Linked DNA regions of Homo sapiens: region 1 is linked to region 2. The links come from fine-mapping of genetic effects on gene expression. A gene starts in region 2. The other region holds a variant in brackets. All regions are shown on one strand. Distances are from middle to middle.

Region 1 (2,934 bases), 37 kb before region 2:
AGTAAATTCAGGTATCTGATTTATTTAATCCAGTATTTGCTGCATTTCTTTTTCTAAAGAGCACATTTCTTTTCAAGAATTACACATTAAAATTCCAGGGAACTTAAATTATGCAAAATATCCTTTGGGAAATGATTTAATTTCATTGCCTCATCTTTCCACTTAATGTTGCTTATGTCAACAATGCTATTAAATACGTACTTGCCTTTATTTCAGTAGTTTTCATAGTGAAATTGGAAAGGTGATAGGATAATCCATTTGATAAAACTGGCAATAGCATTAAATCCTACCCTCCCCTTTTATTAATTTTCAATTATAATCATCAAATCTTGATCAGAAGCAAAGAAGTTTCAAGTCATTTGTTTTCTTTCCCTCAAAATATTTAAACAAAAATTTAGAAAATTATTTTAACATGTTAAAAGACAGACCTTTCCTTCTAGTTGGAACTATAAATTCTCCAAGCCTGGTGTTCTTTAAGAAGGACATTTATTATTTCTGTTACTTGGAGATCTTCTCTCTTTTGATATACTTGAGTGTCTCAGAGAAGCTTCTTAAAGTGTATTAGAAAAAACTGAAAAATGAAGATTCAAATATTGATTTCAATATGCCATAAACATACTAAATAAATGTTGATTATTTCAACCTATGCCACCTTGTATATGTGAACACAAAGCTCATACATATACTCTTTTTCTTTTCTTTTCTTTTTCTTCTTTTTTTTTTCAGAAATAAACACTATCACTAACCATCTGGTATCCTATGATTCCTGAAAATAAAATCTATTTCTAGGAACAATTTAAACCGTAGAAGAACTTCACTGTGTCATGAATTAAACTTTCCTATTTTTTTGTCTTTGGATGACATCCTCTGGGAAAGTGCCCCATTTATATTTCAGTGACTTCAATTCTGGTTGCTACCTTGTTCTCTATTTTTTAAAGTAAAAATATTTGATTTTTAACTACTACTTTCCCACACAGCATAACAGTCATCCTTTAGTAGAATATATGCTATATCCAGAGAATTCTTATTTCTATGAAGGAGGCAAACAGATAAAATTTGCAATCTTTGGCCTTAGAGAAACATGGTGGTCAAAATTAGTAAGCATTATTGTTGTTTGTCTCACATTAGCTTTACCTGAGACTAGAGCATCTTTAACTTTGGACATTAACAGAAAGCACATTATCAGCATTTCCACTCATAGTTGCAAGATCTAACTTTCACAAACTAAATCAAAAGCCTTATGATTGGATTCTGATCCCTGTGGTAACAAGGGAATTTCAAATTATGCAACTTTCATTTGTTGTTTTAGCACTTTCTCATGCCTCTGGGAGAGTGCAGATTTCTGTAGAATCCAGGAAGGTGCCAGAATTCATCAATGTTCTCACTGGGAAATGCACGGGAGATGAACATTCAGGCCAGAGTTCAGGAAGCCCTATGCTGTTTTGGTCC[A/C]TCAGCTATCTAAATGAACAAAAGAGAAATGTGTGAACAGAATTCACTGAATCAGTTTCTATAAAGGGTGAGACTTACCTGAAAGGTCACTCCTGGGACAAGAAACTTGGCTGCAAATGCTAGATGTCATTTGCTTAATCCTCTTATTCACTACAGAAATAACTAAAACCAAGCTTATAAAGGCATGATAACAAAAAAGAATGGTTGAACATGACTACAACTATGATGTGGAAGTAGAACTATACTCTGTTGGCCAAACGGTCAAATTTATTTTTCGTACTTACCAGAAAGCATGCACATGCAACTGAGGGCAACAGTACAAGGTGTTTTGGAGTGCCATCTTGAATAAGTGATGTTAACATTAAATTCCCAGTGAAGACTTTAGTTTCCCAGCTTATAAAATTATAACAACAATAATAATAATTATAATACCTGACTAAACACTGCATAGTCTGAAGACAATTGAGTGAGGTTATGCCTATGAAAATGATTGCACATTACTGAGTTTGATGTATAAATGCCAATTAAAAGCTGCAAAAATTAAGGACTTCTAAATACATCCTGTCTTACACAATTCAACTTTTCCTTCTGTATTAGCACCAGTAGGGTAGAATAGTGCAGGGAAGTGTTACAATGAGGCTTCCCACTTAGGTGAGGGGAGACAGGAGCTCCTTTAGAGAAGGGCTATAAGTTTTTAAAGGATGTGGAAATGGGATGTGTTTCCTGTTGCCTTGAAATGGAGGAAAAGCCTCAAAGCTAAAACTAGGAGACAGGTTGGTTCCTTCAAACCAAAGGAAGCCAACTTCCTGATTTCTTACACATGGACAAGAGTTTTCCTTTATATAAACTCCTATGTTCCATTGAAACCAACCCAATAATCCCATAGACTGTTCTTTTTGATACACATAGAAATTGACCTTTCTGTTCTTAAAGCTTGAAGCTTACATTTGTTTTATCTGAGTTCCTTCCTCAGGAAAGCACCTTCAGGCCTCTTAAAAAGGTATCCAAGAAGTGAAACTCACCAGATCATGACATCCTAACAATGAGAAGCCTGGAGCCCTCATTCATCATGATTGCATCCTTGCCTCTCCCTAGTTCCTGTTTCTTACACATTGTTACATTTCTTTCTACAGAAGAATGTTATATAAACCCATAGGTTTAGTCAGTTAGAGAGATGGATTTGAGCCTGAGCTCTCATCTCCTTGACTGCAGCACCTGATTAAAGACTTCTTCCTTGGCAATACTCATTGTCTCAGTGATTGGCTTTCTGTGTGGTGAGCAGCAGGACCTAGACTAAACCCCTGGTGTTTTGGTAACACCATCAAGAAACTGCTAGAAGTTCTATCCCTATGGGGCTTTTTAAAAGGTAAATAGGCCAGACCAACTACTCTCACCCTCTCTTCTGTCCAAATTAAGGAATTAAGGAATAAATCAAACATCTGAAGGCTTTGTTTTTTTGTTTTTTGAGACAGAGTCTCACTCTGT
Region 2 (2,934 bases):
TAGTTCCCAGGCAGAAATAATCAACTGGAGAACTACTTGAATAACTGAAGACAATAATGAAATAGTGCACCATAGTTTTCCTTTTACATGGAAAAAACTAAAGATTAGAGAAATACAAAGCTATGAAATATATGACTGAGAAATTAAGGAAAAAATAAATTAGTAATATTCTCATTTAAAGATTTAATAGTAAATGTTGCTTTTATAAAACCTATAGGTTGTCCAAGATGTTGCACTGAAAATAAAAGAATGGCTTTATCTGCATTCAATAAGCAGAGTTATTCTCCACCTAAGATAGTATATTTATACCTCAAGGATCAGTTTAAATGCTGCCTCCAATGAAAGCATTTTCAAATCTCTGTATCAGGATTTATGTTTTCTTTTTCTGAATACAACAATGGAGTTCAAATCTTCATTTTAACTTGTACCTGGATAATTTATTTATGTCAACTCCTAATTAGATTATAAAATAATTAAGACAAGGATTTCTATCTCTACAAACTCTATGCATAGTTCTCCATGTTTTAGATTGAGCTGTGTGAAATTGTTATTCAACCATTTTCTACCTTACAAAAATGCAAATTTTATATATTTCAATCATAATAATTATGTTTGCCAAATTGTGAAAATTATATTCGCCTTTTGAAAACTGTATGTAAAACCCAAACATCTAATCATATTTTTTTCTAAATAAAGAAAAACTTCACCATAATAGTGACAATACAAAAAACATTCTTTTGAATTTCTTCCTCAAAGATTTTCTCCAGGAAAGTCACTAAATATTTTTGTTATCTGCTTTTAAATTTGCTAATAAAAAAAGGAATACATTTCTTTAGTTAGTAAATATATGCAAATTTAAAGTTCCTTTGCCTAGATATATGATTTGAATTTTATAACATTAAATTTGGGAGGTAGATAGGTAAAAAAATAGATACAGATACACTTGATACCTTAATAAGTTGTCAATATAAAAAAATGTAATATAATCTGCTATCGTGATCACAGTAAACTTTTTAGACCACATATTCATGCACATTTGTAAACTTGTATAAAGGGAAATTCAACACTGTCTTTTAGCAGGGCTTTCTCTTTCTTAATATACTTTTCATAATTTCTTATTTATTTATTATATCATGGATAAATGAATTGCTTTTCTCATAAGTGAATTCATCTTATATACCTTAACATATAAAACATATAGGCTCCAAAGAGCTAGTCAGTTTGACAAACAAGAAGAATTCAAAATAAAAACAAAAGGCAGGAGCATTCATTAGAAAACCAGTTACTTCACTTACCATTTGAAAGATAGCTTTTCATAAAAGTTTTAGAGTAATATATCTCAGCAAATCTTTTCTGTAAAGCCAAGAGAGACTAACAGTTTAACATTATCCTTTGCTTTACAAAAGAAGCTAAAGTATATTTAAGTTTTGCTCATCTGGGTTGCTAAGAAACCGAATTAATTTTCTACCAGACTCAAGTCAGAGTAGAAAAAGAAAAGTAAAACTAGGGCCTCTGGTTGTTGCCTAAAACATAGCAACAAAGCAATAACTCTCATGCTTTTATTTCCAAAGGTTGAAAATCAGCACAACAACAAGCTCAATACTCAGTAAATACACAGAAAGAGAGCACATGAATAATTGAACTCCAAATCAGTTTTACTAAGTCTTGAGAACTCACCTTTTGTAATTGCTTAGCAATCTGCTTTATAAAGTGATATGAGTTTGACATGTGATATATTATATGATTCTGAGAGGCAGTTTTCACCTTGGGCTTAAGAAGGTTGACTTAATTTCTTCAAAGGACATTTTTTAAAACAAATAAAGATTACAAGTTCTTTCTAATCTACGGCTCAACCTACAGATCTTAATTTTCTTTTTGTTTCCTTTTTCTTTTTTTCAGAAACACAGTCATGCTCTGTCGCCTAGGCTGGTCTCAAACACCTAGCTTCAAGCAATCCTTCCACCTCAGCCTCCCAAATTGATGGGATTACAGGTGTGAGCTACCACACTCAGCCTCTGCTACATAATTTATGTGGAAAATTCCTCCTTTTTATTAATCAAAACCTACACTCAATAGATACATATTTCTTGGTAAGTTAAAAAAACTTTTTAAAATAGAAAACTTCAAATATAATGGGTGCAGCACACCAACATGGCACATGTATACATGTGTAACAAACCTGCACGCTGTGCACATGTACCCTAAAACTTAAAGTATAATTAAAAAAAAAAAGAAAGAAAACTTCAAATATATACAAAAGTAGACATTGTGTAATGAATCCCCCATGTAACCATCATCCAGTTTAAAAAATTACCTTTTATGGCTAATCTTATTTCACACACTTGCCCCAAATATATCTCCAACTTTTTCCCCTTCCCATATTGTTTTGAAGCATCATAATATTTTATCAGTAATTATATCAGAATGTTACCCCCAAAAGATAAGAACACTTTTATTTTTAAAACATAAGCACCATTATGACATCTAAAAAATGAACATCAATTCATTGGTATTATTGAATATCCACAATTCAAGTTTCCAATTATCTCATAAATCCCATAAATATTTTTTTTCTTTTGTGTTTCCTTCTTTTATTTATTTGTTTATTATTATACTTTAAGTTTTAGGGTACATGTGCACATTGTGCAGCTTAGTTACATACATATACATGTGCCATGCTGGTGTGCTGCACCCACTAACTCGTCATCTAGCATTAGGTATATCTCCCAATGCTATCCCTCCCCCCTACCCCCACCCCACAACAGTCCCCAGAGTGTCATGTTCCCCTTCCTGTGTCCATGTGATCTCATTGTTCAATTCCCACCTATGAGTGAGAATATGCAGTGTTTGGTTTTTTGTTGTTGCGATAGTTTAGTGAGAATGATGACTTCCAATTTCATCCAGGTCCCTACAAAGGACATGAACTCATCATTT

The links.
Region 1: its variant is fine-mapped to the expression of C7orf78 in nasal epithelium (TOPMed, PIP above 0.99). The same link has a PIP of 0.9 or more in lung.

Annotation. Positions count from the first base shown.
Region 1 is chr7:12,539,444-12,542,377 of GRCh38, reverse strand. C7orf78 (chromosome 7 open reading frame 78) reads right to left here. Exons shown (of 6, transcript NM_001386514.1): 6 at 1,108-1,458. The coding sequence ends at 1,455. Among named protein-coding and RNA genes, the nearest start is that of SCIN, 30 kb to the left of the region's middle. The variant A/C (reference allele first, on the strand shown) is at 1,450.
Region 2 is chr7:12,502,908-12,505,841 of GRCh38, reverse strand. C7orf78 (chromosome 7 open reading frame 78) reads right to left here and starts at 1,401. Exons shown (of 6, transcript NM_001386514.1): 1 at 1,296-1,401. The coding sequence starts at 1,298.